Homo sapiens: one gene and its partner. The protein of the gene in region 1 purifies or fractionates together with the protein of each later gene. This does not show direct contact. Each region holds a gene or a part of one and is shown on either strand. Other genes may lie near its edges.

Region 1 (5,549 bases):
TATTCATTCTGTAACTGGATCAGTTGCCTCCTGTTTAGTTCCTTGACCATGTCATTTTCATTGTTGAGTTCCTTATTTTCTTTTTTTGAGACAGGGTCTTCGTCACCCAGGCTGGAGTGCAGCGGTGTGATTTCAGATCACTGCAGCCTCAACCTCCCGGGCTCAAGTGATTCTCCTGCCTCAGCCTCTCAATTAGCTGGGAAGAGTTCCTTATTTCAACTCCTAGATGATGAGATTTTGTTGTAAGTTGTTTTCAGAAAGGACTCAGAAATGCCGTATTCCCTGGATTCTTTTGTGTTTGAGAATGCCTGCCTTTTGCCTTTAAAGTAGAATATACTATGGGCCAGGCGCGGTGGCTCACGCCTGCAATCCAGGCACTGTGGGAGGCGGAGCCGGGTGGATCACCCGAGGTCAGGAGTTTGAGACCAGCCTTGCCAACATGGTGAAACCCCGTCTCTACGAAAAATACAAAAATTAGCCGGGCGTGGTAGTGGGCATCTGTAATCCCAGCTACTTGGGAGGCTGAGGCAGGGGAATCACTTGAACCCAGGAGGCAGAGTCTGCAGTGAGCCGAGATAGTGCCACTGCACTCCAGCCTGGGCGACAGAGCGAGACTCCATCCCCCGCCCCTCCACCCCCAAAAGTAGAATATACATAGTTTTGAGGTAATAATTTATTTTCTTGACCCTTGTGCTTCATTGCCCTCTGACATTCAGTGGTAACTTGTTGTCAAGAAATCTGAGCCCAGCTTGATGTTCTCTGCTTAAGGAATCCTCACCTTTGGCTGGACGTGGTGGCTCACGCCTGTATTCCCAGCACTTTGGGAGGCCAAGACAGGTGAGTTACCTGAGGTCAGGAGTTTGAGACCACCCTGAACAATATGGTGAAACCCCGTCTCTAGTAAAAATACAAAATTTAGGGGCTGGGCATGGTGGCTCACGCCTGTAATCCCAGCACTTAGGGAGGCCGAGGCGGGCGGATCACTTGAGGTTGTGAGTTCGAAACCAGGCTGACCAACATGGAGAAACCCTGTCTCTACTAAAGATACAAAATTAGCCAGGCGTGGTGGCGCATGCCTGTAATCCCAGGCTGAGACAGGAGAATAGCTTGAACCCAGGAGGCAGAGGTTGCAGTGAGCCAAGATTGCACCATTGCACTCAAGCCTGGCCAACAAGGGCGAAACTCTGTCTCAAAAAAACAAAACAAAAATTAGCCGGGCTTGCTAGTCCCAAACTCCTGACCTCAGGTGACCCACCCGTCTCGGCCTCCCAAAGTGCTGGGATTTCTTGGGAGGCTGAGACAGGAGAATTGCTTGAACCTGGGGGGTGAAGGAGGTTGCAGTGAGCTGGGATCGTGCCAGTGCACTCCAGCCTGGGCAACAGAGCGAGACTCTGTCTCAAAATAAATAAATAAATAAATAAATAAATAAATAAATAAAATAATCCTCATCTTCACCTTTATGCTCAGTAGCTTTTCTAAAGATTCTGACTTTCTAATGAGCATTTTATAGCTTTCAATCTGCAGACTTTATTCTTTCCATATAAAGGAAATTTCCTTATATCTCTGAATATGTTTCCTATTCCATTCGTTACTTCCTTTTCTTCAGGACACCAAATATTGTTATGTTGAGCCATCTTTGTCTTCTATATTTATTAGTTTTTCTTTCCCATAATTTCTTTCTTCTTCTTTTTTTTTTTTTGAGACAGGGTCTCACTCTGTTGGCCAGGCTGGAATGCAGTGGCGCAGTCTTGGCTCACTGCAGCCTCAAGCAATCCTCCCATCTCCGCCTCCCAAGTAGCTGGGACTACAGGCGCCTGCCACCACACCCGGCTAATTTTTGTATTTTTTGTAGAGACGGGGTTTTGCCATTTTGCCCAGGCTTCTTCCTTTTTTATTGCCATTTACTTGTGATTTTCTTAAACCAGTAATTGTTTTCATTTGTGTCTTTTTTCTTGCCATTTTGAATTTATTAGTTCTGGAATGATCTTTTCTGGGTATTCTGTTTGTTCCCTAGGGCCGTGGTCTTTCTTTTCATCTCTTTATGTTGCTTAATAACCTGATTGAGGCTGGGTGCCGTGGCTCACACCTGTAATCCCAGCACTTTGGGAGGCCGAGGCGGGTGGATTGCCTGAGCTCAGGAGTTCATGACCACCCTGGGCAACATGGTGAAACCTCGTCTCTACTGAAATACAAAGAATTAGCCAGGCGTGGTGGTGCACGCCTATGGTTCCAGCTACTTGGGAGGCTGAGGCAGGAGAATCACTTGAACCCAGAAGGCGGAGGTTGCAGTGAGCCGAGATCGCCCCACTGCATTCCAGCCTGGGTGACAGAGGGAGACCCTATCTCCAAAAAAACAAAAACAAAACAAAACAGGCCAGGTGAGGTGGCTCACGCCTGTAATCCCAGAACTTTGGGAGGCAGAAGCAGGTGGATCACTTGAGGTCAGGAGTTCCAGACCAGCCTGGGCAACATGGTGAAACCGTGTCTCTACTAAAATATAAAATTTAGCCAGGTATGGTGGTGCGTGCCTGTAATCCCAGCTACTCAGAAGGCTCAGGTGGGAGAATCGCTTGAACCCAGGAGGTGGAGGTTGCAGTGAGTTGAGATCATCCCACTGCACTCCAGCCTGAGCGACAGAGCGAGATTCCCTCTCAAAAAACCAAACCAAATCAAACAAAATCATAACCTGGCCAGGTGCGGTGGCTCACGCCTGTAATCCCAGCACTTTGGGAGGCCGAGGTAGGTGGATCACCTGAGGTCAGGAGTTCGAGACCAGCCTGACCAAGATGGTGAAATCCCGTCTCTACTAAAAATGCAAAAAAAAAAAAAAATTAGCCGAGCGTGATGGCGCATGCCTATAATCCCAACTACTTGGGAGGCTGAAGCATGAGAATTGCTTGAATCTGGGAGGTGGAGGTTGCAGTGAGCCTAGATCTTGCCATTGCACTCCACCCTGGGCAGAAGAGCGAAACTCTGTCTCCAAAAAAAAAGTTAAAAAATTTGATAACCTGATTGAGTACTTATTTCATTGAGTTTATAAGCTTACATTGTTCTAGTATTGTGAATTAATTGTGAGGAATAACTCTTCGTTCCTTGATTTGTATTACTTCCTAGGTTGATTTTTTTCTTTCTTTTCTTTTCTTTTTTTTTTTGGACTGAGTTTCGGTCTTGTTGCACAAGCTGGAGTGCAATGGCGCAATCTTGGCTCACCTTAACCTCCACCTCCCAGGTTCAAGCGATTCTCCTGCTCAGCCTCCCAAGTAGCTGGGATTACAGGCGTGCACCACCACGCCCTGCTAATGTATTTTTAGTAGAGATGGGATTTCTCCATGTTGTTCAGGCTGGTCTCAAACTCCTCACCTCAAGTGATCCACCCGCCTCAGCCTCCCAAAGTGGGATTACAGGTGTGGGCCACCGTGCCCAGCCAAATTTTTTCTCTTACACAGCTCCTTCCTTCCTTCTTTCCTTCCTTCTTCCTTCCTTCCACTGGAAGTTTCTTTCTTTTCTTCAATATTTTTTGAAAAATTGTTTTGTGGACCAGGTGTGGTGGCTCACGTCCGTAATCCCAGCACTTTGGGAGGCCGAGGCAGATGGATCACCTGAGGTCAGGAGTTCGAGAACAACCTGACCAACATGGAGAAACCCCATCTCTACTAAAAATACAAAAGTAGCCAAGTGTGGTGGTTCATGCCTGTAATCCCAGCTACTCGGGAGTCTGAGGCAGGAAGATTGCTTGAACCCAGGAGGCAGAGTTTGTGGTGACCTGAGATCACGCCATTGCACTTCAGCCTGGGCAACAAGAGTGAAACTCCATCTCAAAAAAAAGAAAAAAAGAAAAATTGTTTTGTGGAGATGGTGGTCTTGTCATGCTGCCTAGGCTGGTCTTGAACTTCTGGCCTTAAGAGATCCTCCCGCCTCAGCCTCCAAAATTGCTGGGATTACAGGCGTGAGCCATGGCACCCAGCAGAAGCTTTGTTCTTCTTTGTTACTCTTTTGTTTTTGCTATTGCATCTTTGTTTATTGCCATTTGGCTGCATTTCATTTTGTTGTGCCCATACATCATAATTGCTCTGATATAATGTGGGGGATTTTTAATTGCTCTGATATGATGTGGGGGATTTTTAATTGCTCTGATATGATGTGGGGGATTTTTAATTGCTCTGATATGGTGTGGGTTTTTTTTTTAAGTTCCCCTCCCCACCATATCTGAGACTATTTTATTTTCCCCTCAGAACCGTGATTTAAGGGCTGAGTATTATTCTAGACACATTTCTGTATAATTTGGGATTGGTTAGAGAAAGGAGGAAGCTCAGCTGAGTTGTGTGCAGTGTTTTTTAAAAATAACTTGGACTCTGTCTTTACACACTCTGAATCAGGTTCATGCCCCACATGGGAGATTGCCTGTAGTCTTCAGATTGTCCCGTTTACAGTGTAATCTTGGAACCTGCACGTTCATCAGAGAGAGCTGGCTCTTTCAGCTTCGCTTATTTCACTTCTTTTGTTTTTTTAAAACTCTTTCCACTATTCCTTGGTCAAAAAAGTAGAAAGATTCAAAAATGCCCATTCCATTTTTTTCTCTTCAGACTTGGTGTTAGTGAGAATTTTCAGGATTTTGCTGCTTTAGCAACGTAGTTTCTGGAGTAAACAGCTAAATGGTGCTGGATCACCTCGTTTTGCTCTGGAATCTTCATTTTTTTTCTTGTCTGTCTTACTGAACAGCTTACAGTTTCTTGGAGATCCCATGCTCTCCTGCTGTGCACATGCCCCTCGTTCTCGGACGTGTGGGGAGATGGGGCTGACCTGGTCCCCTCTTACTCAGCCCTCAAGACTCAGTTTATTGGCCGGCCACATCTTCCAAGAAGTCTTTTCCAGTGATTTCTTGCCACTGCCCAGACAAACAGAGGAACTGCCCCCACTGGCTCTGTGTTCCTGATGTACATCATACATGCCACTCCTTGAATTATAAGCATACTCAATTTATAATTTATTTTTCTATTTTCTTTTTTTTTTTTTTTTTCGAGATGGAGTTTTGCTCTTGTTACCCAGGCTAGTGTGCAATGGTGCGATCTCAGCTCACTGCAACCTCCGCCTCCCAGGTTCAAGCAATTCTCCTGCCTCAGCCTCCCGAGTAGCTGGGGTTACAGGGATCTGCCACCATGCCTGGCTAATTTTTATATTTTTTAGTAGAGACGGGGCTTAACCATGTTGGCCAGGCTTGTCTCAAACTCCTGACCTCAGGTGATCCACTGGCCTCACCTTCTGAGAGTGCTGGGATTACAGGCGTGAGCCACCGTGCCCGGCCTATTTTTCTATTTTCCTTTGAGTTCTTTATTACTGTGAGTTCTTTAAGGCAAGAAAAACGTCTTATTTATTTCTCTATCTTGAAGGTTCAGCTCACTAGCTGACTTATAGTAGGGGAAAAAGGAAGGAAGCTAAGGTTTATTGAAGGACTAGTATTTAACAGCACTGTTTAGATGCTTTAGATATTACTATATCTGACCGGGCGCGGTGGCTCACGCCTGTAATCCCAGCACTTTGGGAGGCCAAGG
Region 2 (5,234 bases), on another chromosome or scaffold:
TACCAAGTTACTTAGAAAAACTGCAAATAGGGTGGCTGTTTCTGCTACACTTTCATACAGGTTTTACAATGAGCAAGTATGTACTAGTGGAAGGTCGAGCAGTTTATATTGAGTCATTTCATCAATCTGACCTTATGATTTTTAATTGAATCATTAAAATTTATCTCTTGGTCTTACTAAAAATAAATAATAGATTGACGGCAGCTTAATCCTCAAAGTTGGAATGTATGGCATCTTGCGTTTTTAGGACTGAATTTGCCTAGAATATATTTCTAATTACAGATTAGGATTTGGATAAACCTTTAATTCAGTTGCATGGTTGAGTACAGAAAGGCAGCACTGGTTGCCATTCATAATTATTTTAAGGATCAACTATGTTGTGAGCTTTTGCAGCCACCTCCAAAGTGACTAAGGACTTTAATTTCAGTTCCTTCTTAGTGAAAGTAAAGACGTTTGTTAACTGTGAGAGATTTTTACTTTTACATGGGCTTAGTTTATCACACTGATGAGTGTTAATTGTGAAAGTTTTATATCTTTATTACTCTGTTGTGATTTTTCTCGTATTACGTAATTCCAACCCAGGTGAAAGATTCTGATATTTTAAAAGAGATACAGGCTGGGCGCTGTGGCTCATGCCTGTAATCCCAGCACTGCCAAGGTGGGCTGATGACTTGAAGTCAGGAGTTTGAGACCAGCCTGGCCAACATGGTGAAACCCCATCTCTACTAAAAAAAAAAAAAAAAAAAAAATACAAAAATTAGCTGGGTGTGGTGGCGGGTGCCTGTAATCCCAGCTACTCAGGAGGCTGAGGCAGGAGAATCGCTTGAACCGGGGAGGTGGAGGTTGCAGTGAGCTGAGATTACACCAGTGCACTCCAGCCTCGGTGACAGAACGAGACTCTGTCTTAAACAAAGAGAGAGAGAGATACAATTAAGTCAGTTGATCGAATGTGATATGATTACCCTTTGCCATTTAATTTCATGGTAAAGTCAAATTTTAAAATACAAGCTTTAAAATATTTTCATATTATAACCATTCATATTATTTCTCACATAGGTTAGCATTTTGATGAACTATTTTAGTTTGCCTTTACTCATAAGCTCACTTTCTTTTGTTAAGACTCCAGGGAAATTTAGATGGTCTATTGATCAACTAGCTGTAATAAATCCTGTAGAAATAGACCCAGAAGATATTCATCGTCAAGCTTTATACTTAAGTCATTCTCGGTAAGTTTTCCTTTCTTGCACCTAAGTCTAATAACACTCTCAAGTGAAGAGAGGTAGGAAATTCTAAATGTTGAGTATTTTTCTATGTAAAGGTATCAGGGAGAAAAAATTTTGATGCAGATTTTTTCTATCTAAATGAATGAGTTCAAAGAACTACATTCAGAAAGATTTTCTTGCCAACAGTTCCAGACCTGAGTAGATACCTTTTTCTTTTACAAGTAACCTTTTCCCTCTGCTACTGAGGTGACAGCTCTGTACCCCTAGCACTCAGTTAAGAGAAGAACATTTTGAAATTTGCACTTTTCTACATGGTTGTGGCTTCTGCCATTAACTTGTTTCAGTTTGTCTTTTTGATGATTTGGGGTAAAGCAAAATGCTGTTTCATTGTTATCTATGTTTGGGGAAACCTAAAACCCCCTCAAAGAGTTACGTATGCACTGAATGGAAGGGTATCCATTAGCAACAGAGCGGTTTTTTAGACATCATCCAACTGTAACAATTCACTTGGAATCTGAATTACATTTTCTAGAATTCTACATATCACCCAGTGCAGTCTTATTTGTTGATGTGTTGTTTAGGTTTCAAGGCACTAATGTACTGCAGATTTAGTTTTTTATTACAAAGTGTAAGGTCCTATTATTCTTTTGTAGTTTTAGGGACTCTTGTTTATATGTTTTATAGTCTGATTTTTTAATATTTGAAAAAAATCAAATACATGGTATGACCAGATTTTAATTTGCTGTCCTAAGGTAGACATGTTGTTAGTCCAAAACAAAGGATAATCCTTTTCCCTTTGACTTAAGAATTCAGTCACACAACGTTGCACACATATTGAGATATTCTGGTAAATACTTACTGGCTTTTCTCCTCCATCTTCTCTTTGCTTGGTAACATGATGACCATTCAATCATAAAATTAATGTCCACCCAGAGTGTTAATAGGAAGGGAATAGAATGAGGATGAAGCATGAAAGGATTTTAACTTAAATTTAAATAATACCTTTGAGGCCAGGTGTGGTGGCTCACACCTGTAATCCCAGCATTTTGGGAGGCTGAGGCGGGCAGATCACTTGAGGTCATGAGTTCAAGACCAGGCTGGCCAACATAGTGAAACCCCATCTCTACTAAACATACAAAAACATTAGCCGGGCATGGTGGTGCACACCTGTAATCCCAGCTACTCGGGAGGCCGAGACAGGAGAATCGCTTGAACCCAGGAGGCAAAGGTTGCAGTGAGCTGAGATCATGCCATTGCACTCTAGCCTGGGGGACAGAGCAAGACTCCATCTCAAAAAAATAAAATAAATAAATAAGTAAATAAATAATACCTTTGAAAGAGAAGGTGAGATGAATATCTAAAAGCAAATGAGTCACAGTGACTAATTTTTTGTTTCACACGAACTTAATTATGCTTAATTATTTTGTCTCATTTCTTCAATATATTGAATGATGGACAATTATTATATTGATCAGTCAAGAGATACTTATTGAGTACTGTGAGGGACTGTAAGAAACACTGAAGAAGTACAAGATACTAAGAGTCAAGAGTCAAAAATATAATTAGACCAAAGTTGTAACACAGTGCTTCTGTTCTTACTACTAAATGATATATTGTCTGCAAAGGTTTATAAAGATAATCTTGGTGTCTCTTAGTACATAGATTTATCATATAGAAGAATGGAAAAGAGTGGGAAAATATTATAATTTAATTTAATAATATAATTCAATGAATGGTTATGGCTTCTACCAAGGATAGTCAATATATTCTTCACAGAGCATCTCGTTTCATCCTTAGAAACAAGCAGTGTCTTTCAGTATCTCTTCTTACATATTAGCCCTCTACTTCAATTCTTCCCATCCTTTTCATGCCACCATCCACACAGAAAATTGTAACTGAAAAGCATACCAGTGTAAGCAGGTGAGTCTTGGCCATGTAGGTGACCAGTCCTGAGGTCCCCTCTCCTTTGCCACCCTGCAAAGGCTCAACATTCAGGCCACACCTATACCTATATGCATCATACTGGTGTTCAGTGGTATGCTGGTCAGGATGCTCTCCCCTGTATGACTTCTTAGAATCTTGTTTGATCTGACTCTAGAGTATTTGGCCACAGTGATTTTTACAGTTTCCAGCAATCACCTGAGTATTTCATGTTCTTGAAGTCCCTCTGATGAAGTAGCAAAAGGTTTCTGAATGCAGTAATCCTAGTTCAGAGCTTACTTGCTATTTGCTAAGCTTGTTATGTGCTGCCATTTTGACCATGATAAGATGAAGAGAACCATTGATAAGATGAAGGCCATTTTGTTATCCTCAAAATGGCTACTGTTCAAGCTGGGATATGTGGGTTGACACTGTAGTTTATTTTCTCATACTTCTCCCACTTGAAAAATCTACTTAATTTCTGAAATGTATACATTCTCATATAAGCTTTATTAAGCCATGAGCAAGTCTATATGTGAAAAAAATTCACACCATGGAATACTATGCAGCCACAAAAAGCATGAGATCGCGTCCTTTGCATGGACATGGATGCAGCTGGAGGCCATTATTCTTAGCAAACTAATACAGGAACAGAAAACCAAACCCCTCATGTTCTCACTTATAAGTGGGAGCTAAATGATGAGAGCATGTGGACATATAGAGGGGAACAGCACACACTGGGGCCTGGTGGAGGGTGAGAGGAGGGAGATCAGGAAAAATAACTGATGGATTCTAGACTTAATACCTGGATGATTAAATAATCTGTACAACAAACCCCAGTGACACAAGTTACCTGTGTAACCTGCATTTGTACCCCTGAACTTAAAATAAAAGTTAAAGAAAAAATTCTGAGACAAAATAATTTTAAATTGTAAAAAAAAATATGTCTTACCAATTTACTGATGGAAGGCAAGGATTCTTTCCTGTAATGGAATAAAGAAGTGGTCCTAGAAAGCTAACTGCTGAGTCCTTGGCAAGTATATGCTTTGTGCTTGGACCCAAAATTTTATATTAAATCTTGTAGCTGAGAAGTTTATATAACAGTAATTGCAGATTGTATCAAAGTGAAAAAAAAATTCATTTGGAAAAAATGTTATATTGTCAGTGTTTTATTTCAGAGTTAATATTTTTGACTGTTTAGAACTGTGAACTATCCTCATCTATTTTACAGTAAAAGTTGATTCTAAAATTATTGCCATGATAAACTTGTTATAATTGAAGAGAAAAACTTTGGACAATTTTTAGATGTATGTTGAATTAAATACTTCTTAATTTGTATTAAGGGACAAAGTTTATCAAATTTATATTGTTAAAAGCAATTTAATATCAATGTAAGTCTTTTGAAATAAAGTATCATTGCATTCAAACTTTGAATGGAAAAGAGGGAGGTAAGCCTAACAGCTAACTGCTGAATTTCAGAATACTGCCTAAATGTTACTAAATGTTACAAGATACCACTAGTATTAATTATAAAGTGAGCTTAACATTTGCCAGTTTTCAATGAAGGGAGATTATTTATTTGAAAGGTTATTTTTTAAAATGTTCAATAAGCTTAAGTAATAGCATGGTTATTTTTCTTCTTTATCTTTGTATAGAATAGATAAAGATGTGGAAGACAAAAGACAAAAAGCCATTGAAGAGGTAACTTAAACTGTTACTGATCATTAAATCAGTTAAGGATCAATTCTGCATGTACATCACTTCTTTTAGGAAGACTTTCTTCAATTCCTTCACTGTCCTATCTCCCCTCCAAGCCCTTCACAGTCCCATCTATATAAAGCACCCTTCTGTACTGTCCTAAGACCAATAATTTCCAGCTATCCCAGTACCTTGCATAGCACTTGCATACTGTTGTAATGATCAGTTTAGTGTTTCTGTCCCCTAGACGCAATCTTTTTTGGCCAATACTGTACTTCATCCTTTCATTCTCAGGACCTAGCACAATTTGTCTTCCTTGTGCCTTCAAAATGTTGATTAGCACAAACTTTGTTTCAAGTTGGAGTTTATGTAGAGGAAGTCGAATATTCTCAG

The links.
Region 2: the proteins of DYNLT2B (region 1) and BORA purify together in Homo sapiens (affinity purification with mass spectrometry; one large-scale study listed by BioGRID and IntAct). This does not show direct contact.

Annotation. Positions count from the first base shown.
Region 1 is NC_000003.12:196,307,551-196,313,099, reverse strand, and holds part of DYNLT2B (dynein light chain Tctex-type protein 2B), read left to right. Parts: intron 1-5,549. UniProt on the Homo sapiens protein: Acts as one of several non-catalytic accessory components of the cytoplasmic dynein 2 complex (dynein-2 complex), a motor protein complex that drives the movement of cargos along microtubules within cilia and flagella in concert with the intraflagellar transport (IFT) system.
Region 2 is NC_000013.11:72,730,162-72,735,395, forward strand, and holds part of BORA (protein aurora borealis), read left to right. Parts: intron 1-1,119; coding exon 1,120-1,226; intron 1,227-4,798; coding exon 4,799-4,844; intron 4,845-5,234. UniProt on the Homo sapiens protein: Required for the activation of AURKA at the onset of mitosis.